3 linked regions of the Homo sapiens genome follow. The protein of the gene in region 1 purifies or fractionates together with the protein of each later gene. This does not show direct contact. Each region holds a gene or a part of one and is shown in the gene's direction. Other genes may lie near its edges.

Evidence for each region. The genes of interacting proteins can lie anywhere in the genome.
Region 2: the proteins of TMEM255A (region 1) and ANKRD13D purify together in Homo sapiens (affinity purification with mass spectrometry; 3 studies listed by BioGRID and IntAct, with this or other methods). This does not show direct contact.
Region 3: the proteins of TMEM255A (region 1) and GCA purify together in Homo sapiens (affinity purification with mass spectrometry; 3 studies listed by BioGRID and IntAct, with this or other methods). This does not show direct contact.

Annotation. Positions count from the first base shown.
Region 1 is NC_000023.11:120,272,638-120,281,462, reverse strand, and holds part of TMEM255A (transmembrane protein 255A), read left to right. Parts: intron 1-4,415; coding exon 4,416-4,578; intron 4,579-7,930; exon of another isoform or gene 7,931-8,311; intron 8,312-8,825.
Region 2 is NC_000011.10:67,297,994-67,303,500, forward strand, and holds the end of ANKRD13D (ankyrin repeat domain-containing protein 13D), read left to right. Parts: intron 1-1,064; coding exon 1,065-1,131; intron 1,132-1,536; coding exon 1,537-1,618; exon of another isoform or gene 1,619-1,628; intron 1,629-1,833; coding exon 1,834-1,895; intron 1,896-1,999; coding exon 2,000-2,130; intron 2,131-2,996; coding exon 2,997-3,154; intron 3,155-3,288; coding exon 3,289-3,405; intron 3,406-3,494; coding exon 3,495-3,658; intron 3,659-3,738; coding exon 3,739-3,830; intron 3,831-4,125; coding exon 4,126-4,339; 3' UTR 4,340-4,491; downstream 4,492-5,507. UniProt on the Homo sapiens protein: Ubiquitin-binding protein that specifically recognizes and binds 'Lys-63'-linked ubiquitin. Does not bind 'Lys-48'-linked ubiquitin.
Region 3 is NC_000002.12:162,338,525-162,347,647, forward strand, and holds the start of GCA (grancalcin), read left to right. Parts: upstream 1-5,607; 5' UTR 5,608-5,724; coding exon 5,725-5,751; intron 5,752-5,843; exon of another isoform or gene 5,844-6,072; intron 6,073-9,053; coding exon 9,054-9,123. UniProt on the Homo sapiens protein: Calcium-binding protein that may play a role in the adhesion of neutrophils to fibronectin. May play a role in the formation of focal adhesions.

The DNA of each region.
Region 1 (8,825 bases):
AATTGGTGAGTGCTCCAGGCCCTTATGGAAGAGCAGAAGGATGCCCTCCTGCCTTATCTAAGATCTTCTGCTGCCTACTTTGTTAAGTAGGAGACTGAAACACAGAGAACTTATCCGTTTCTCTAGGTCCACCCAGAACGTTGAGAGCAAGGGGGTAAAAGCCCACATTGGGTAATCAATCTCATGATCAATACAGTGATTAGTCTTTGCACTCAGTTACTCATTCACCGAGTATTTATTGACGACCTTTAATGTTTCTACCACTGTGCTAGGCAGTGAGAGAGACACAAAGGAATGTTAAGAGACGACCCTCGCCCTCAAGAGGTTGCGATTTTGACAGAAACATCATGTCGGCCTTGGCCTTGATTGTAACATTAGCACCAGCACAGTATTTAGCACTGATACGCTACCAACACATATTAGATTAAATAAATAACTGAATTATTGATATATACAAAGTGCCAAACTAAGAGGAATAGACTATGGGAGTCCAAGGAAAAAGCTAATGAATGGGTAGTGGCGTCTTTGAAGAAGGCACTATTGAAGCTTTGAGCAGTGAGAGAGATTAGGATAGGCAGAGAACAGAAAGCAATACCTTCAATGCAGGGGGAGAAATCTGAGCAAAGGTTTGGAATTAGTACCCAGCATAGCCAGTGTGGGGCTTCTGTGGACTCCAGCCTGGCTGGAGTGTATACTCCATTTTGAGGCTGGACTTTGGCAGACTGAGGAATTTGAACACTCCCCTGAAGGTACTGGGGAGCCACAGAAGGGTTTTGATTAAGTGAATGACATATTTTTAAAAGTGTTTTAGGAAGAGTAATCAGGCAGCAGTGGGGTCTGGCAGGACAGCCTTACAGTGATGGAGGCATGAGGATGGGAGCAGTGGGAATGCAAAAGGTGCAATTTCAGAGGAAGCTCTGCCCAGAGACTGAACCAAATGGAATCCTGAATCTCAAGCAGAAAAAAACCACATTAATTTGCTAAACCCGAACCATATCTAAGAATTAGCTTTCTTTTCCTTCATGGTTCAGTGAAAAAAAAAAATTAAATGGCTGCTGGAACCACTCAAACTGAAACCAAGTATATATTATCTAAAATTATTGAATATTTTAAAACAAACTACTATCCTATTCCCATATTGCGGTTTGTGCCTACAAAGTCTTAATACTGGCCAGGGACAGTGGCTCATGGCTGTAATCCCAGGACTTTGGGAGCCTGAAATGGGAGGATAGATTGAGCCTAGGAGTTCGAGGCCAGCCTGGGCAACATGTCAGAACCGCATCTCTACAAAATTTAGCTGGGCATGGCAGTGTGAGCCTGCAGTCCCAGTTACTTGGGAGGCTGAGGTTGGAGGATCACTTGAGTCAAGGAGGTTGAGGCTGCAGTGAGCCATGACCATACCACTGCACTCCAGCCTGGGTGACAGAGCAAGACCCCATCAAAAAAAAAAAAAAAAAAAAAAAAGAAAGAAAAGGAAAGAAAAGAAGGAAGGAAAAAAAAAGAAAAAGAAAAAACCCAACCAACCAAACAAACAAAAAACAAAATAAAGTGTTAATACCTTTAAGAACAGGGTTCAAAGGTTTGAATTGTGTTGCCAGAGGCTGGCTCTTAGAAGGAACAAAATGTAGCTACATATTTTAGTGGAGGCTTTTATTATATGTTGGAGTACTGCTTTCATGCCTGTTGGCATTACATCCCCCGGGCTCAGAGAAGTTAAGTAAAGTAAGTAACCTAAGAGTAAGAAAGTAAGTTGCTAGAGTCAGCATCTGGTGACAGAGCATAGATGACAGAGCCAGGATTCGAACACAGTCTGACTTCAGAGTCAGCTATGGCATACTGCCTGCCTATATATACTACTAGTCCACCCTTGGTGTTTTAGGAGGCAGGCAAACATAATTTGGGGGATGTCAGAAGTTGACTCCCAAGCTACAAAGGTGCTCCTGCAGTTCCACACTCACCCATACACACAGGTCTGTCCTTTTCAGAGAATAGTCCTTGTACAGCTGTCCGTTTTTGGGGGCAGTAAATAATCTGTGCATCCTCCCTGCCCTGTCCCCAGGGCCTAGTACAATGCCAGCTAATAGGAGACAATGTATGCTTATGCATGGGCTCTTGAGATATGCTCCTGAAAATACTGAAATCCAATTCAAACTCTGATTAATTGAAACTCCCTTAAAATTCCACTATGGGCCAAGTGTGGTGGCTCACACCTGGAATCCCAGCACTTTGGGAGGCTGATGTGGGAGTATCTCTTGATGCCAGGAGTTCAAGACCAGCCTGGCCAATATAGTAAGACTCTGTCTCTACAAAAAATATTTTTTTAAAAAATTCCACTACGGAAGCTTACTATTAAAAACAGTGGGTCTCAAACATTGATGAACTTGTTAACACAGATTCTTGACCCCATCACCAGAGATTCTACCAGATTCAGTAGGACTGGGGCTGGGCCTAGGAATCTGCATGTTTAACCATCTCTCTTTCTCAAAGATACATGCACAGATACACGCAGAGACACCCACAGGCACACACAAATAATGCACTGATACAAACAGGCAGGCACACATAGACACAAACACAGATGATTCTGATGCAGTCTGCCCTGTAACCACACTGACTTCACCTCCTTAGAGAAACACTGACTTTAAAGAATCTGAAGATAAATTCATCTGTAAAGTTTAAGTCTTTTCATATGTGAATAGTCCCTCTCTGATTCATTTTGGAGATCAGCCTTTGATTGTTTTTCTGTTTTCTTTTTTGCATTCTTATAGCAGGGGAGTCACATGTAATAATCATCCTAATGCCAGGGCGTTTCGTTGTGACTTTAAGTGTTTTAGATTCGTGATGAACTCCAGTGGCCAAGTTGTAAACTAGTTTGTGACATCCAGGAGGACAGGAACTTTCATTTAATTAATTCCACAGGTATTTATGTAGCACCAACTGTGTGTCAAGCACAGCAGTGAGCAAAATGAACCAGTTCCTGCCCTCATGGAGCTCACGTTCAAGTTGGGGAGGCAGACAATAACGTAGTAGACACATCAGTAAGTTATTTTCATATGGGAATGAATGCTACAGAGAAATTAGAAAAGGGTGATGTATTGCTTAGCTCGGGCTGCCATAACACGATACCATAGACCAGGTGGCTTAAACAATAGAAATGTACTTATTTCTCTCATTTCTGGAGGCTGGAAGTCTAAGATCAGGGTGCCAACATGGTCGAGCTCTGGTGAGGGCTCTCTACCTGGCTTGTGCCACTTCCCCTCTGTGCTCACAGTGACCTTTCCTTTCACATTCAAGTAGGGAGGGAGAGAACGAAAGTCGGGGTCGGGGGTGGGTGGGGGAGGGGCGTGGAGTAGGGAAGTCAGGGGAGAAGGAGGGAAAAAGAGGAGGAGGAGGAGGAGAGCGAGATCTTCCTTTTCTTATAAAGCCACCAATCCTATCCGATTAGGACCCCACCCTTGTGGCCTCATTTAACTTTAATTATCTTCTAAAAGCCCTATCTAAAAATACAGTCACATTGGGGGATAGGGCTTTAACACATGAATTTGGAGGGACAAAATTCATTCCATAGCGGATAATGTGATAGAGAGCGACAGGGCTGGGAAGGGGTGTCTTTGGACAGAGTGGTCAAGAAAGGCCTCCCCACGGAGGCGACTTTCAGGTTTTGTGTAGCAACTCAGCTTTAGTTGTTTACCAGGACATTGGTTTTTATTTGTTTGTTTTTTTGTTTGTTTTGTTTTGAGAGGGCACACACTGAAGTCTTTGAAGCCTGAATTCAGGTCCCAGTTCTACCACTTACGACTTGGGCAAGTTCTTTAACTTCTCTGTGCTTCACTTTCTTCATCTGTAAAATGTGCATGGTGATAGTCCCTATTTGATAGGATACTGTGAGGATTTGCAGAACTTTCTGCAATGATGGAAATGTTCTGTAACCTGCTCTGTCCAGTATAGTAAACACTAGCCACATGTGACTATTGAGCACTTGAAATGTGGCTGGTGAGACTTACCAACTGAATTTTTCTTTTTACTTAATTTTACTTAATTTAAATTTAAATAGCCACATGTGGCTAGTAGCTACCACATTAAACAGCACAGATGCAATGAATTCACACATGTGAAATGCTTAGCACTGTGCCTGGTACATAGCAAGTGTCAATAAGTGCTATCTAGGATTAGTGTTAGTGGTGGTTACAAGTATTTTTCTGGCAGGTAGGAGTTTTTTTTCGGGGAGTGGGGATAAACAATCACACTTTGATTTATTATAGTACATGGCTATGATGTCTCTTACTGTAGCTCCCCACCTGCCCACCTGTCTTTTCACTGAGCTGTATGGTAGCCCAATCCCAGAGTTGGGGAGGGGGCTGGGGAGGACAGCCTGCTCCCTGGGGACTGACTGGAGCATGCTCCTCCCTGTCCAGCCGGGTGGAGATCACTGGTGGGTACTACGAATACATCGATGTCAGCAGTTGCCAAGATATCATCCACCTCTACCACCTGCTCTGGTCTGCCACCATCCTCAACATTGTTGGCCTGTTCCTGGGCATCATCACTGCCGCTGTCCTTGGAGGCTTTAAGGACATGGTAAGGAAAGAATTGACTTTGCATTTCACAGTGGCCCCTGTTGGACATAGGGGGAAGGCTAGGCAGTTGGGGGAAATGCAGACACATATTTTGAAGGGAAGAATCAGAAGCAATTGCTTCAAGGATGTAGCTGCCTTCAAATGTCTCAAGTTGAAGGAGCCAGGTAATGTCATCAGTCTGCAAATATTTCTTGTTATACACAAATTACCTGTGTTCTGGAGGCACCTTCTAGGGGTGGGGGGTGAAAGGAGGAAGGGGTGTTCTCAGTTCCCCCATTCGCACTGGTTATGTAAACATAGTCTTTTATAGCCCCACCCCACACTTTTAGTAAAATTTTTTGGGAATAGTTTTCCCCTAACAAACTTTGGGAGAGATGGAAGGAAAGGTTATTCTAGCTATAGGTAGGATTAATGCTAGTCTTCCCCTCCCCAGGTATTTCATAGTGAAGTTTCTTCAGAAAGAGCATCTGGGCTCTTTTCTGTTTGCATTCGCAGAGCCAGCTCTAGGCTAAGTTGCTTGCCAGGTCTTGCCTTCAACTTGGACCTCAACCTCAGCCTCCCCACTTTCCATTCTTCCCTTCCAAATCTTTTCTATTTGTGTGTGTGTGTCTGCAAAGGCACAGCAGGACTCAGCATTCAGTAGGTACTCCATATAGTAGGCTTCTTTTTTTCCTTTCCTTCTAAGGCATTTCTAAGCATTTATTTGTTTATTTGATAAATCTAGATCTCTAATTATGGAGATAATAGCTTTGAGTTATGGTTATCAACCTGGCTTCATATAAGAATCACCTGCCCAGCATGGTGGCTCATGCTTGTAATCTCAGCCCTTTGGGAGGCCAAGACAGGAGGATTGACTAAGCCCAGGGGTTTGAGACTAGGCTGAGCAACAGCCCCTGTCTCTATTAAGAAAAAACAACTTTTTTTAATTAGCTGGGTGTAGTGGCACATATCTGTAGTCCCAGCTACTTGGGAGGCTGAAGTGGGAGGATCACTTGAGCCCAGGAGGTTGAGGTTGCAGTAAGCCATGATTGCACCACTGCACTCCAGCCTGGGTGACAGAGTAAGACCCTGTCTCTAAAAAAAAAAAAAAAAAAAAAAAAATGCTTGGGCTCCTTCTCTAAAGATTCTGATTTAATTGGTCTAAACTGAAGCCCAGGCATCAGGTTTTGTTTTTTGGTTTTTTGGTTTTTTTTTTTTAAGCTCCCAGGTAATTCTGATCTGCAGCCATGATTGAATACCACTGCTTTAAATGAACATCCCACATCTGTTTATGGAATTATTTTGTGCCTAAGAGGGACTTTCCTTTGACCCCAGAAATTAGCTCCTAGGCCCTTGGCTGTTTCTGTCAGATTTTGGGGTCCCTGAAGAACAGAACCTGAAAGGCAGTTTGTAATTTGATCCTGGACGGTCAAAAGGATGAATGTTGGAAAGTGAAAGGTGGGGTAGGACAAGGGAAAAGAAAGAAACTCTGTCGTTTTGGATTGCAAGTCTCCAGCAGTACTGGGCTGACTGGAACTATTAAGTGTTCCTGCTAGTGACTCTAAGTCAAGAGAAATCCTTTCCTGCCCATCTGCACTCTCTCTTTCTTCTTTCTCTCCCTCTCTCATCCGCACATTTCTCTTCCCAGCTTCCCTCCCCAGACTCTGGAATGCCCAAGCACTAACAAGTAGGGGAAGCATCAACAAAGGTGGAGCCCCAGGAGGGAAAAGGATTTCCTGTAAATTTGGCCTTGAGGAAGCTTTTAGGTTAGAGAGCTGCAAAAAAAGCTGTTTCTGGGTTGGGGCTTCTTTGGAGAAAAGAATGCCCTTTGTTCTTGGAGAATTTCCCCAGGGGGCAGATGAAAGTACAGGTATTGTGTGGAATCTCAGCAGCTTTGGCTGGAAGAGAAGCTCCCAGGTTTGGCGAGTTGAGGAGATGGGACCTCAGGATGAGTGTTAAGAGTTCTCTAAATTGTCCCTAGAGCTTTCAGGCTTGGATGGCAGAGATACCTTGATGCACAAATGGAGTAGGTGGTAGCTACTTGGTAGGCTCTGTGGGGTGCCTGTAAGGCTTCCCCCTCTCCAATTTTACCCTACTGTGGGCGCTGAAACTGCCACCATGTTTTATTCCTTACTTTAAGATAAGCATTGTCCTTTTTCTCCTTGTCCACTTTCAAGATGCGTGTATTAAACAAAGGAATAGGCTAGTAGGCCACAGAGGTGTTTATACTTTGAGTTACTAGTCTCTCAGTGTGAAGGATTTGATAAGACCCTTTTCCATGGTGATGGAAAGAATTGGATTTTGAAGGCAAAGGGCATCTGAGGAAGACAGGGAGAGTGGCTAGATGGACACTTTCAAGAAATTTCTGGAAGTTGGAAAGAAGGGAGGAATAGGAAGATGATATGCTAAGGAACACAACCCTGCCAAGCTTTTAGCCTTAGCTTTAGTCCCGTTTTCCCTCACTGTCCCCCTTTAAAAAAAATTGAGGTGGAAGTCACAAACATAAAATTGATCACTTCAAAGTGTACAATTCAGTGGCATTTAGTACACTCACAATGTTGTGCAATCATCATTTCTGTCTAGTTCTAGAACTTTTTCATTACCTGAAACCTGTACCCATTAAACAATCACTCCTTGTTGCCCCTTCCCTGAGGCCCCAGCAACCCCTAATCTGCTGTCTGTCCCTATGGATTTACCTATTACAGGTATTTTCTATAAATGGAATCATGCAATATTCGAACTTCTGGGTCTGGCTCCTTTCACTTATCATATTTTTTTTGTTTTTAAAATTCATCTACCTTGTAGCATATATCAGTGCTTCATTTCTTTTTATGGCTGAATAATATTCCATTGTATGGATAGACCACGTTTTGTTTAGTTTTTTATCCATTGATATACATTTGGGTTGTTTTCATGTTTTAGCTACTGAGAATAGTGCCTTCATGAACAATCACTTACAAGTACTTGTTTGATTACCTGCTTCCAATTCTTTTTCCACCTATGGGTGGAATTGCTGGGTCATTTGGTAATTCTATGTTTAACTTTTTGAGGAGCTGCCAAACTGTTTTCCACAGCAGCTGTGTCATTTTACGTTCCTACCTGCAGTGTGTGAGGGTTCCAATTTCTCCACATCCTCACCAACACTTTCTCAAAAAAAATTATAAACATTCTAGTGGGCACAAAGTGGTATCTTGTTGTGGTTTTGATTTGTACTTCCCTGCTGACCAGTGATGTTGGGCATCTTTTTATATGTTTGTGTGCAATTTGTATGTATATCTTCTTTGGAGAAATATCTATCAAGTTTTTGCAGATTTTTTTATTTTCCAAACAATATTCAAGATTGTTAAACAAAATTTTAAAGTATTATAAAATGTTTAATTTTCATTAGCTTTAAGGTTTATGTTACCCCCAAATTTTGTATATAACTGAAGTTTCAAATCTACTAACACTCACTGAATTGATACCACTCTGGATTCTAAGGCATCAGTTTCTTCTTACCAATTTTTCTTTGCTTCTTCTAACATTTCTTGTGTTTCATCTTGAGAATGGCTAATGAAAACATCACCAATTTGATAAGGTATCATTAAGCAGTCATCATCTGCAAGCATGATGTCATTGCAAACAACTTCTAAATTGTGGAGTTGTTTCCTTTTAACTTCTGTTTCTTCCTTCAGCTCTGTGATTCTACTCATATTCCTTGCAAATTTGTTTACCTAATGTTGATCTTCAAAAGTAGCGTTGAAATTTTCTGCAGCCTGTAAACAACAGCACTAGTAGCACCTACCTGTGGACTTGTGAGGGCTGATGTGATAACCCAGGTAAAGTGCATGTATTAGTCCATTCTCACACTGCTATAAAGAACTGCCCGGCCGGGTGCAGTGGCTCACACCTGTAATCCCAGCCCTTTAGGAGGCCGAGGTGGGCAGATCACGAGGTCAGGAGTTTGAAACTAGCCTGGCCAACATGGTGAAACGCTGTCTCTACTAAAAATACAAAAATTAGCCGGGCATGGTGGTGCATGCCTGTAATCCCAGCTACTCGGGAGGCTGAGGCAGGAGAATCACTTGAACCTGGGAGGTGGAGGTTGCAGTGAGCCGAGATCGTGCCATTGCACTCCAGCCTGGGCAATAGAGTGAGACTGCGTCTCAAAAAAAAAAAAAAAAAAATAGCCCAAGACTGGGTAATTTATAAAGAAGAGAGGTTTAATTGACTCAGCTCTGCATGACTGAGAAGGCCTCAGGAAACTTACAATCATGGCAGAAGGAGAAG
Region 2 (5,507 bases), on another chromosome or scaffold:
TCCATTGTGGTTGGAAAACATACATTGTATGACTTCTATCCTTTCAATTTTATTGAGGTTTTCTTTTTTTTTTTTTTTTTTTTTTTTTGAGACGGAGTCTCGCTCTGTCGCCCAGGCTGGAGTGCAGTGGTACTGTCTGCTCACTGCGAGCTCTGCCTCCGATGTTCACGCCATTCTCCTGCCTCAGCCTCCCAAGTAGGTGGGACTACAGGCGTCCACCACCGTGCCCGGCTAATTTTTTGTATTTTTTAGTAGAGACGGGGTTTCATCATGTTTGCCAGGATGGTCTCGATCTCCTGACCTCATGATCCACCCCCCTTGGCTTCCCAAACTGCTGGGATTACAGGCATGAGCCACCGCGCCCGGACTTATTGAGGTTTTCTTAATGGCCTAGTGTATGGCCTTGAAGAGTGTTCCGTGTGCGCGTGAGAAGCGTGTGTGTGGTTGTTATTGGGTAGAGTGTTCTAGCCTGCTTATGAAGTCCAGCTGTAGTGTTGTTCTTATCTTCTGGTTCTTTGTTGATCTTCTAGTTGTTCTATCCCTTATTGAAAGTGGGGTACTGGAGTCTCCAACTGACATACTTTTCTTTTAGCTTTTTATTTTGGAAAATTTCAAACATATATGAAAGAAGAGATAATGTACTTACTCATCACCCAGCTTCAACATTTATCAACATCTTGCCAATCTTACTGAATCTATCCTTCCTTACCTTTTTTAAAAATGTTTCCTAGAGTGTGTCAAAGCTCATCCCAGATGTCCTAATGTTTCTAGTAAATGCTTCTGCACAATTCTAAAAGACAAGGATGTTTTTAAACCCAGCCCCGACACTATCATACCTCACAAGATTCATGCTAATTCCTCAGTGTCTTCTAGTCCCAAGTCCATGCTCAAGTGTCCCCCCCTGTCCAGGCACCCTCTTCAGGGGTCCTCCATGTTTCATAGCGAGAAGGGGCCCTGAGAGTTGGGCACCCCGGGCAGGCTGGCTGGAGGGGGCTTTGGAAAGGAAGGCTTTGGCCAGCGTGTGAGGGTGCAGGTCTCACCAGCTCCTGTTTGGTCTGTTTCAGGAACAAATGTGGTATCTGGGGCTGGCGGTCTGAGAAGATGGAAACTGTTAGCGGCTACGAGGCCAAGGCAGGAGAGGCTAGGGGTGGGGGGCTGGGGGTAGGAGATGAGGTCCAGGAACTCAGCTCCTCTCCACATCCATCCCAGAGTAGCCCCTGGGCTCTGGAAACCCTGAGCATTTGTGGGAACTCAGCGGGCCTGAGTGCCCAGCCCCTGCGGAGTACACAGGGCTCACCCACATCATGGGCCCCTACCCAGGGTACCGAGATCAAAAGAGGAGTGTGTTCCTCTTGACCCTGGGGCTGCATCTCCTCGTTGGTGACTTCCTGGGGTTCAGACCCTGCCACCTCCTCCATTTTGGGGAGCAAGATCTCATCTGTCTCTGGGACAGGAGGACCTGGGTTCTGCACTGGTGAGGCTGAGTGTGGGGAGCAGGCTCTGAGCCCCCAGCTCCCCGTGTCCCCTGCTCCCCAGGTGTACAGTGCCACCAACGTGGAGCTGGTGACACGCACACGCACGGAGCACCTCTCTGATCAGGACAAGTCGAGGAGCAAAGGTAAACCCAGGTGCGCCTGCCTGCTGCCCGGTCACACCGTGTGGTGGGGTCACCCTGGCCTGGGATTAGGGGCCAGAGTTTCCCAGGATGAGCTGGGAGGCCTCCCCATTCCCGTCTGACCCCTCTTCCCCCAGACAGTAGGCTCCAGGGGTGGAGGTGGGCAGGGGCGATGCGAGCATTGTGACCCCTTACCAGCTCCCACCCCTTCTCCGTAGCGGGGAAGACTCCATTCCAGTCCTTCCTGGGGATGGCGCAGCAGCATTCCTCCCACACCGGGGTGAGCCGGGGCTGGGCCGAGACAGGGCTGGCGGGGGGCCGAGCCTGGGCGGGAGGGCACCCTCTGTCACCTTGATGGCTGAGTCCGCCCTGGGACCCACGCAGGCCCCCGTGCAGCAGGCAGCCAGCCCCACCAACCCCACAGCCATCTCCCCTGAGGAGTACTTCGACCCCAACTTCAGCCTGGAGTCACGGAACATTGGCCGCCCCATCGAGATGTCCAGCAAAGTACAGAGGTGAGGTCTGAGAGCTGGCTGGGGACTTGCCTCGGGACAAGGGCTCTTGCAGACCCCTCTCTGGGCCTGTCATAGTTAGGGACCCACTCCCTCGGCTGGCTTCTCTCTGGACTCCACTCCTGGAGGGCAGGAGTCATGTCTGCCTTATCCATGGTCCTCAGCCCTTAGCAAGGGGCTTGGCACAGAAAACCGGTAGTTTGTCTTTGATGAATGGATGGTGCCACCCATGTATGGTTTTCTATTGAATTTCATGAGTACCTGCTGGGGCCAGCGTGGCACAGTGGGAAGGGCCCCCAGCGACGTGGCCTGGGAGTGGAGCGTCTGCCTTGGTGGAACAGAACAGTTACGCTCTTGCCTCGTGAGGAGCCTTGAGCAGGTATAGGCGGTAACAGCAGGCACAGTGCCTGCACAAGCCTAGCGCTCTCCCCACCATCTCAGGAGGATTCTCTTAGCCACCCAACAGTCGCTGGGATTCGAACCCTGGCAGTCTTGCCCTGGGGTGTGCTGGACATAAAAGTTTGGCAACACGTGAGCTGGTGACCAGCTCTGGGCTGAGGAGGAAAACGGGGCTGTGGGCCAGGCCCAGAGAGAAGCCCACAGCCTGGCACCTGGCCTCCTTGTCCAGACCAGATGAGCTGGTACGAAATCCTCAGGAGCCCCAGCCTGGGCCCAGGGAGGAGGGCAGCTTGGGCCACGTGGCCAGGACACCAGCTCCCGGGGGAGGCGGGCAGCGGCATCTGAGCAGAGCAGGGCACTCCAGGCCAGGCAGAAGGTGGGTAAAGGCAGCTGCCCACGAACCAGAGGGCAGTCCTCAATGGAAGGGCCACCAGCCGTGCCTCACCCATGTCCTGTGGTCGGCTGGGCAGGTTCAAGGCAACACTGTGGCTGAGTGAAGAGCACCCGCTCTCCCTGGGTGACCAGGTGACCCCCATCATCGACCTAATGGCCATCAGCAACGCTCACTTTGCCAAGCTGCGCGACTTCATCACTCTGCGCCTTCCACCTGGCTTCCCCGTCAAAATTGGTGAGAGGCTGGGCACAGGCAGCGGGAGGACCTCAGGCATGGCACCCTCCCTCAGCGCAGTCCCTGGAGAGCTGCAGGGGCCGGAGGCACAGGTGGCTCTCCGCCAGGGCTCAGGCGTGGCTGTCTTCTCACAGAGATTCCCCTTTTCCACGTGCTCAATGCCCGCATCACCTTCAGCAACCTGTGTGGCTGTGATGAGCCCCTGAGCTCCGTGTGGGTGCCGGCCCCCAGCTCTGCTGTTGCCGCATCAGGTACCCCAACGGGAGGAAGAGGGAGCCTGCACAGCTTTCTGGTCACCAAGCCCCGCGGGTTGAGCGTGGCCCCTCTGCCACCTGCCTAGGGAACCCTTTCCCGTGCGAGGTGGACCCCACCGTGTTTGAAGTGCCCAACGGGTACAGCGTGCTGGGCATGGAGCGCAACGAGCCCCTCCGGGACGAGGACGATGACCTCCTGCAGTTCGCCATCCAGCAGAGCCTGCTTGAAGCGGGCACTGAGGCGGAGCAGGTGGGACTTGCCCAGGGGGTGGGCTCTGGCCTCTGCAGCCACACGGCAGAAGTGACAGCTGTGGGCTCTGGTGGCTGCAGGTGACCGTCTGGGAAGCCCTGACCAACACCCGGCCCGGTGCCCGCCCTCCTCCCCAGGCCACGGTTTATGAGGAACAGCTTCAGCTGGAGCGGTGAGCCCCTCATGGGGCTGGCTGGGTCCCTGTCCCCCCAGCCCTGGCTTGGCGGGGAGGGGGATAGCAGGAAGGTGCTAGGACCCCAGGCCCTCTGCAAGGCCACCCTCTGTCAGCAGCGCTATCTGCCACCAAAGGTGGTGTGAGGGGTGGGGAAGCAGGGCCCTGCCTTGTCTCCTCTGCTTGCCACCCTGTCTTTGCCTTTGTCCTCCAAAGCCGGTCCCCAGCCCCTCGGCTTCTGCCCCAGCCTTGGCGCTCACTGGCCTGTTCTTCCCTCCCCTGCCCTGCCTGGAAGGGCCCTCCAGGAAAGCCTGCAGCTGTCCACAGAGCCCAGGGGCCCAGGATCCCCTCCCAGGACACCCCCAGCCCCCGGTCCACCCAGCTTTGAAGAGCAGCTGCGCCTGGCCCTGGAGTTGTCTTCACGGGAGCAGGAGGAGCGGGAGCGGCGCGGGCAGCAGGAGGAGGAGGACTTACAGCGGATCCTGCAGCTGTCACTCACTGAGCACTGAGCCATAGCCCCGGGAGGGCTGGCCAGGCCACTCCCTGCCCGCTTTTGTAATTTATTTATTTATAAACTCTCTGCTGCTGAGCTTGGGGCCTGGAGCCCCAGGAATGAGCAGGCAGGGGAGACTGAGATGGAAATAAAGAGACTGTCGCAGCAGGGCTGCTCTGCTCACTGGGCTGGAGCGGTGGGGACCCTGAAGGTGGGGCGCTGTGGAGAGGCACTGTGGATGGCGGCCTCAGACCTGGGCTTGAATCCTGGTCATGGTCCCCTTAGCCTATCTGAGCCTCAGTTTCTTCAGTTGTAAAATGAGGAGACCACCCCCCACCCTCCGCCCCTCAGGGCTGAAAGGAGCTGGCGAGAGTCACGTGTCCTTACCAAGCAGGCGTCCTGTGAAAGTCAGATCCCCTGTGCCCTGTCCCACCTGCTGGGGACCCGGTTCGTCCTGCCACCCAGCCTAGTCTTCTGGAAACCGGCCCACGTGCCTGCTGGGGAGGAAAAGCCTGGGTCCCCAGGCACCATTCACCTCCAGCTGGGAAGAGCCCCGACGCCGACCCCTGCAGCCAAGCCCAGGCCCTGGCCCTGACTGCGGCTTGTTCTCTGCGGGTGGGTTTGCGCAAGTCACTTCCGCCTGCGTAGCTGGAAGCCCTGCCCTGCTCGCCTCCGAGGTGGACCTGAGAGCCCCTCATGGGCTTCCTGGGTTATTTGTAAACCCCAGGCCGTTTTCCCCGGAAGCCTGTCTTCCAGTGGTTCCTGCGGAGTGGGAACGAGAAGGCCGACCAGCAGGGAGAAATGTTTGGGGTGGGGGCCCTTGGCCGAGGGCGCGCCGTGCCTGATCCTCTCTAGACCTGTCCCCCACCTCCCCACCTCAGCTCTGCCTCCCTAGGACCCGCCTCTGCAGGGCACAGGACGCTGGAGGCCCAGAACAGCTCAGGTGCTCCCGCTGGGCCGGCCCGGGCCGGGCGCTTCCTGGGAGGGGGACCAAACTCCCGGCCTTCAGCTCTTGCCCTCCGGGTCTCCGGGCTCCGCACCTGCGCCCGCCCCCGGCCTCGCCCCTGACCTGTGCCCAGGGGCTGGGCGGGCCGAACAGCGGAGACCGGAGGGGCGGGGCCCGGCCGCCCTGAGAAGCTCCGCGGGCCCGGCTGGGCGAGTGTCTGGCCCTTTAAGGGCCGCCC
Region 3 (9,123 bases), on another chromosome or scaffold:
TTATTACAGAAGCGGGTTACTAACCAGTGGGATAAACACCAACATAACAGAATTTAACTGACATATTTAATTTATATATTTCTAGAAAGGCAGCTTTGTGGGTATATCATCCCATGTTATCTAGGTAGAATCTAAATGATATTCATAAGCACGCAACTTGGATTTAAAATTTAAGGTAGGTATTTTTCTGATCTTACCTGAAAAGCAGATGACTTTATTGAGGATTTTAATCATACTGTTGCTGTTCTTATTCAGCATTAGTTGTGGACACATACTGTGATCAACATTATCTACATATATATAATTTCTCAAGAAGTTTTCATTGAGTCCAAATTGCTTAATAGACTTAATAATCAAAGTGAGGATGTATATATGCAGAAAGTATACCAATCATCACCTTTCTGAAGAGCCTTGTTAACAATTTTATGCTAAAATGCACTATTATTAAATTGCTTTAGAGTTTGTACTCCTGCCAAAAGAGTACTAGTATTTTCAGAATTAAAAACAGAAAACTGTGTTATTGAGAGCTTAGCTGAAGAAAGGTCAGTTTGCCAAGTGGCTGCTTGAGGTAATAAATGGTAAATAATATTTATTTTTGTCTTATTTGGCATGCTTATTATTTTTCTTCTGTCCTCACTGGTGGGCAGTAACCCTTAGAAAGATACTGAAAGGAACAACTTCGGGCTTAAAATAAAATTATGACTGGATGGCTTCACTTGATAGTGTCATATTTTTATGTCTTATGCAAATAACACATATATATCTTCATTATTCCATATTAAAAAAATGAATAATTTCTGGAAAAGTATGATAATTATTGCATGTAGATCAATTAAGGAAATCTATGTTAAGGAATATTGGAAATCCAATTAAGGAATACATTTTAGCATAAAATAGATAAATACTAGGGTAGATCAATGTGACAGAACAACAGTGAACATTATGATCAAGTGTCTCTTTTTTCAACTTTCAGATTTTGTGTGCTATGAATGAAATGCTTCCCTCTCCAAATTTGCATGCTGCAACCCCAACCACCAATGGGATGATATTTGGAGATAGATCTTTAGGAGACAATTCAGTTAGGTGAGGTCATGAGAGTGGGGTCCTCATGATGGGAATTGTGCCCTTATAAAAAGAGACCCCAGAAAGTTTGCCCCCTCTCTGGCTATCCTCATGCACCAAGCAAAGGTCATGTGAGGACACAGGGAGAAGGCAGCCATCTGTAACCAAGGAGAGAGGCCTCACCAGGCACTGACCTTGTGGGCAGCTTGATCTTGGACTTCTAGTCTTCAGAACTGTATGAAATAAATTCCTTTTGTTTAAGCCACACAGCCTATGGTATTTTGTTATGGCAGCCTGAGCTAACAGACACTGTGTACGTACTTTCTTAAGTGTTATATGGATTTAGAAGTCGTCAGAATTATTTTCCATATGCAATTGGCTATACCTTTAATCCTCTAAGTCATAAAACTATTTATATTATTAATTAATTTTTATAATCAATGATGCCCAAAGAGGCCTTAATTTCTTAGTCCCCTTTCACTTTCATTATCAGCATCAGCAATTTGTTAGGGCCATTTTGGAGGAATCCTCCCTCTCTAAAAATAAATTCTTTGCCACTTGTCATCAGTGTATCAATTGGAGAAAGGTCTGTTAAGATGCAAATGCTGAGTGGTTGGTAGGCACCCTCACCAGAAGCTGTTCACTCTAGGCAACCTCTTAGATAAACAGCCTGACATAGTCACTTAGTATCACAGGCGTCTCAAATTTAACATCTCCAATATTAATTCTTGATTTGGCACTATCCCAAACTGCTCCTTCCCCAGTCTTCACCATGTAATTTAAGGGCAAATCCAAAACACCAGTAAACCCTGCTGGCTATACCTTAAAAACAGAATAATCATCTCACTACTTCTCACCATCTCAACTGCTATACCCTAGTAGGTCACCATCATCTCTAGATTACCAACAGATTGCTAACAGATCTTGTTTCTACACTAACCTCCTTCTGTCTGTTGTCAACAGCTGAAAGAGTGAGCCTTCCTAAATCGTATCATGTCCCACTTAGATTTCAAACTCTTCGGTGGCTCCGTATCACAACCAGAGTATAAAAGCAAGTACTTAAAATGGTCTGTGAAGCCCTGCATGATCTGCTCCAATGTCCCCGCTTCTGCAACCACTTCCACTACTCTCCCTCTTGCTCAATCTATTCCAGGCTCACTGGCCTCCTTGTTATTCTTCAAATAGGTCAGGCAGGGTTTTGCTTTAGGACCTTAACTCTAGTTCTTCATGGAAATGTCTTCCTACAGATACCTCCAGAATGTCTAACTCATTCATGACCTCTAAGTTTTTGCTCAAATCTTGCCTTTTCAATAAAGCTACCCAAGTACTCCATTTAGAGCTACAACCTACTCTGTCATCTCCCTACCCCTTAACCTTGACTTAGGTTTCCTTATTTTTCAATAGCATTTATCATCTTCTCACATGGTTTATAATTTACTTACTCATCATTTTTACTTACTATTGTCTGTTCTCCCTGCTAGAATGTAAGCTCCAAAAAAGCAAGGACATTCCTCCCCTCCTATTGATGTATGTTTTCCACATCTAAAATAGTGTTACATTATACATGCTCAATAAATAATTATTGAGTAAATGAATTGTTCTATCTAAATGAAATTTCTTAGTGATATAAAATAAACTCCATTAATGTTGGTTTCCATTAGCTGGTATGTCTTATTTATTTTATATATATATATATATATATATATATATATATGATTTATATGAGGCAAGTAGGCTCTGGGTTTGTGATTGAAATTTGCTGAGGAGCTGTGACTCTTTTCTCTCCCTCATTCATATAGTGGGAAAGAGAAAATGAGGTGGCAACAGATAGGAAAAAGAACTGCAGTTAATTTATTGTTTACATTTTACTGGTAAATGTGCTGGTTAATTGAATATCTAAACTTATGATAAGACCAATGCCACCAAGATTCAGAAGAAATTCCATAGTTAGACATAATCCTGTAAGCTTTATAGTCACCAGAAAGGATGTACCCTGTGTAAGAGAAGTAATTAAATTGGCTAATCTTGGTCAAAACAATGTGTTTCCTTGGCTATTTCTCTAGTTATATTTTCTACTGCCATTTAAAAACTTTTAAAGCCTTTTTTCTTTTATGGTGTAAACAATTTTATTATATTCTGAAATACAGCACTATGGTTGGGGATGGAGAGAAAAGGGGACATACAATGTTTAAGAAACCACATTCTGCAGCCATACTCTCAGATTTGCTAGTCACTATGCAACTGCATTTGTGGGTAGTGAAATACAATTATCCACCTTACTTTTCACATTTGTAAAGTGGGAATAATAACATATACCTGATGGAGTTGTTTTGAGAAATAACACTTCACAACACACAATGCCTAGTACGTCGTATTCACTCTATAACTATTTTTATAAAGTAAAGAAGGATTTTATTAAAAGAAAAATATTTAAAAAGCAAATTTTTTAAATAGACATGACATTTTCATAAAATGCTATTGTTCATACAGTATTAACTTGACTCATGGAGGCAAATTAACATTACTGTTATTTAAAAAAAACTCTATGGCCTTATTTGAATTTTTATACTAGAATATTTAAAATTTGAAACACTAGTTTTAGAGAGAGAGATGCTGTGTTGTTCAAAGTCCTCCTCTGCATCTTCATGGTAGGAACTTTCTTTGGTAGCCCTTTCTCTAAGTTAAGAGATATATTGGCAGGAACTATGAAGGATCTGATATTTTACCCTAGTTATAAGCAAACAAGTAGAGTGCCACAGTTTCATGGAAGTTGGCAGAATGTGTGAGATTCCTGAGTCTGAGACAAATAACTTTATTACTCAAAGCACAACAGGCACCATGAGCTTCATACTTCCATAGATTCCCCTCGTTCTGAAGTCCCACAAGGCGAAGAGGAGCTGCCAGATGGGTGTTGTACATGCACTGTGTTTGTTATGCAACTGGAAGAACTCCAAGCTTAGGAAAGTCCTAAGAAGGCTGCTAGCAAACGTACCCAAACTTTGCCCTGGCAGGAAATACTATCTTTGCAATTAAATGTGCAGAAAGGCAAGAAACCCATGGGGCCTTAACTCCCAACTGCACAAATGCAGCTGCATCAATAAGGCTATTTTGATGAAAACAAGATGCACAAAAATTTTGACCACAGAATCAGACTAACATTGTAAATGTAAACACTCAATCCTTCCTAAGCAGTTCTTTGAATATGTAGTTAATCCGTTGGAATAAAATTTTGCAATGGTTTGTTCTTTCTAGCGCTTTATCATTTGATACCTTCATAAGCCATGCATTTTTCCCTTTTGCCACGTAGGTTTTACCCTTCCCCTCTATTTATTTATGCCAATAATTTAACCTTAGTGGCTTAAGTATTTCTTACAGCATTGAAGGAACTTACAGACACTTTCCCAAGAGTAGCTAGGACATCGGCAATCTTCCTTTCTCTCTGCTGTTTCCTCTGAGAATTGTTTCACAAGGTCCAACATCCTCTTCTGTAGCATAGCTGAACAACAGATACTCAGCTCTGCAAGGCTGATTTCCTTTGTGAATAGTTAACATTTTTTTGATAGCCTTATTTTTAAGAAACATGTTAGCCCTTCTCTTGTTCTTCAGAGATAACTCAAAATAATATCATTTGGTTTTTTCATTTGTTCATAAGCCAAAGCTACAGCTGCCTTGTCCTTTTAAAGTCAGAGCTACAAAATTCATTTGAGTTCCAGAGATAAATCAGACTTGTCCATTGCTATTACTTAATAAGCCAAAGTAATTGAACATTTAACAAGAGTTTGCCCAAAGGCTGAGTCAGATTATATACAGGACACCGTCTATATTATCAGTGTATAAACAGCAAATAAGTTTTTAGTGTATGTTCACGTCCTGTGCAATATTTGGGACATACTTACACTAAAAAAGTTTATTTGGAAATCAACTTTAACTAGATATCCTGTTTATTTGCCAACATGCCACAATTCAGGTCACCATTTATCTACCAAACAGAATCAATAACCTGTTCGTCCAATGTGGCCTCAAGTGGGTTTTGGCGCAGAAGCACTCCTCCTGGACCACAGGTGTGGTCCTGGTTGCAAAGTTTTGATGTGACATCAACACTACACAAAAGTAAATGTAACTGCAAAATTTTGAAATTCACAGATGGGTCTTTGAAGTCCAGCTCAAAAGCGTGGAGGGCTGGTTAAAATAAGTCACAGACTTGCCGGTTTGGGGTTTCTAGAAAGAAAAGTAACTTGAGGAGTTGAAGGCTTGTAGAAGACCTTTCCACAGAGAGTGGGAATTCCGTTGCAGCAGCCAAGGCTTCTTCGGGATTTAGAAGGAGAGCGCGCGAGAACCTGAGGGAGCCAGTAAGAGTCGAGCAGGGACTGGAGGGCTCCCGATGGGGTGTAGCCAATCAGGGCAGAGATGGGTGGGGCTAGGCTGCGGGAAGGGGCGGACTGCAGCTGAGTTGGCTCCAAAGTGTGGGACTCAGCCAATCGGAACCGTGCAGGGCGGGGCTGGCCTGCGGAAGGGGGCGGGTTCGGAGGAGTGAACTGTGCGGTTAGTGCGCCTTTCAGCCTCACCTGCAGCTGCGCCTCCTTGCACCTGCGCCTGTGCTTTTTCTCCCAGCACTGCGGACGCGACTCGAGGGTGACGCTCGCTCCGCTCGTCCCGCTCGTCATGGCCTACCCGGGATACGGAGGAGGGGTGAGTCCCAGCCGCTTGGTCGTGTCCCTCTTCCTCGCGGGGTGTGGCGCCCCCGGGGGCGGTGCCAACGTGCGGGTCCGCCCTTGGCTCCTGCTCCCTGCGTCCGCGCCTGGTACTCGGCGGCGCCGGATTCCGGGGCTGTTGGGGGCCAGGGCCTGGGCGAGCATTGATCCTGGGCTGACTTGGAGCCGCAGGTTTTCTGGTCGTTGAGGACCCTCGAGGAGCGTCCTGGTGGAGCCGAGGGAGTAATGTGTGTTTGGAAATTTATTTCCTGGAATGGAGGAACAAGCCACCCTCTTCTTGTTCCAGTAATCGTTTGTGGTACTTCCCTCCCCCGCCCCCCACTCAGTGTTGCTAGAGATCCTCTTTTTGAATTTCCTGACCACTTCTTGTTCTTTAAGTTCCTTATGAATAAATTAAGGTGTACGGTAAATAACTCCTAATCTTTACTGTTATACGAAGGGCAATCTGTTCTAGACTCCCCCGCTCGCCCCCAGGCGGGGGGAAGTTACTCTTTGTTATAACTTTTATCCTGCATCACCTTTGGGAGTTGCAAGTTATAATCGTAGAGTCCTGGTGGCTAGCCCCTTCTTTTCAGAAAGGAGCCCAAACCTTTAGTATCGATGTCAGTGATCTACACGCTGTGTTAACAGAGTTAACAGTAGTTTGATCCATTGCGGTGTGGGTAGAATATAATATATTTTCTATTTGTTTTTTACCTAAAAAGAGAAATTGTGTTTTACTGATTTTAATATAGGACTTGACTTTGGGCTATGGTTGTGGTCTTCAAAAGAGTTACTCCTACCCCTTGGAGTTCATGGTGGTGGTGGTGGTGGTGGTGGTGGTGGTGGTGGTGGTGGTTGTGGTTGTGGTTGTTGTTGTTGTTTTAGGATATGAATTTCCAGGTCCTCAACTTCCACACATACTTGTTCCTAAAATTGATTTGCTTTCCTTAAGACTTGCCTCAATCCCCTCTGGCACCGTCCACTTTGTAATGCCTATGCCTCCTCAGTCCTTAAATTTAGGAAGGAAGTTTAAGGTACCTAAGGAAAGTAAAGCCCCTTCGAAGATTAATCAAGATAGCATAAACCTGTGGGTCTTTAAAAACGTCCCTAGCGTATACGTATTTTCATTTGGTTGAAGCTATCTGTTAGAAGTTTGTATATTTACTCCTCTTGGTATGCTCTGAATTCATATATGTATGGTAGAGTGAGGTGGCAAGAGTAATACATTTTCATTCAAATAATTTGGTGCTTCCTTACCCACTTTTGTCAGAGTGCTTGAATTTGATGGAGAGTTCCACGACACAATAAAGAGAACGTCTGTATGTGTTTTGAATATTTAAATCCCCTTTTCCATGAATTTAAAATAAACAACTCTTTTCAGCTGTTGTCATGCTCATTATTAATCGCCGGAAAGAGAAGTACCCTCAATAGCTGAAGCAATATATAGATTAGAGGCACTGATTTTAAAAAATGTAATTGAAATATTTTAAGATACATTGGATAAAATTTTGGGATAAAACTTACATGATTTCTTTAGTAGGAGAATATTAATAAGATAGTTGAGACGTTTATAAATCCTGTTAAAGGAAACCCATGCCTTATTAATGTTTCTTATATTCTTTTAACAAAATATAAAATGTCAGCTGCTAGACCTAATTGTTTTGATAGTATACTTTTATCTAATTAAGTGCATGATTTATCTCTGTAGGAGATGCATTTCCAATAGATTTTTACTTTCTTCTTTTAAGAATTGTTTATAAAAATTGTATTATTTTCTTTTTTTTACTAATTGTATACGAATAAAAATTATAACTCAATGTAAAGGACTTTTTTCTTTGTTTCTCACTTTGGTCACAGGAAATGAAACAATCTAAAACTTCGTTACATGTTTTTGTTTGTACATGTTGTATTATACAAGCTTCAGTGTTTTCAATAATAAAAAAACATTTTAAGCACAGAAAACTTAAACAGATTAGATTTTCACACAAGAAATAGCATACAAAATCAATTCAAAGATGAAGAATCTGTCCTTAGGAATAACTTTTAATCTGTTTTCCCTTCCCAATTTGCAGCATTAGCTTTCCCCAGTCCCATAATTTGAGAACCTGGTGGTCAGATTAATGATGGTTACCAATTCTTTACCACTCCCCTTATCGAAAGGCACAGACTATTTCTCCACTTTCTTCAATCTGGATTGGGCCTGTTTCACCTTCATCTGGTAGAATACAGTAGAAAAGACACCATGGCAGTTCCAGACTCAATATTTTAAGAGGACTGGCAGCTTCTCTTTCTCTCTCTTAGAAGCTGACTGCCAAGCTATGAAAAAGTGGAAGAGCCATGTGAAAGGGCCCATGTGGAGGAGAACTGGGGCCCCTGGCCAACAAGGTTCATCCCTAAACACGGTTTACATAAATTTATATTTCAAGTTGTCCTCTTGACAGTTTCAAATGAGTCAAAATTGATCATTATTATTATTACTACATAATGTGGGTAAGGAAAGGCTTAGACAATATTTTCATGTCCAAGCCTTTCATGTTGCTTTGCATGTTTTTGAATCTTTACTATTGCCATTTTGTTATGGCTTTAGTTAAAACTAGATCACATAATCTGTAACATCAGAGAATCCCACATATATAAACTGTAATAAGTCACAATAGGCTGAAAAGAAACAAGTGGGAGGCCAGCATACAGAACTCTATGTCATCCCTCAGGATACTACCAGAACCACAGCAGTTTCTTTAAACATTTTGCTTCCCGCCCCTTAAAAGATTTTTGAAAAACTATATACCCTTTTCCCATATTTTATATTGACATATAAAGTTTTTATTTTAAGTTTAAATAGTTGTAAAGAATACAATACCCAACATATTGTAAATGTTGACACTTAAAGTTTCATTGTATTTACACATATATTCTTCTAAGTATGTGTCTTGAGGTTTACTTCTTAGTTTTACTTTAGGTAAAATCTTGCATTGTTTTACTTTTTGTTTACTTCAGTGATGTTGGTAAACATTTTTTAAAATTGTACATGTTCCTCTTAGATTAAGTTCTTAGAGGCTAGTAACTTTCTTTTTTCTTTTATACTTCTTTTAATGCTGGGTAATATATGTTGATGAATTGAATTATGTCTTAATGTAGGACATCTAACATTTTGTAGTTAAAATTTTTGTGATAAGATTATAAGCTTTTGGTAACTGTTTACTTTTTGACGGACTTCTAATAATTTCTTTTAATCCAACTTTCATAGATAATAGGTAGTATTTATATTACTAACCTTCTCCCCTTTCACTATTATAGTTTGGAAATTTTAGCATTCAGGTGCCAGGAATGCAGATGGGACAGCCAGTGCCAGAAACAGGCCCAGCTA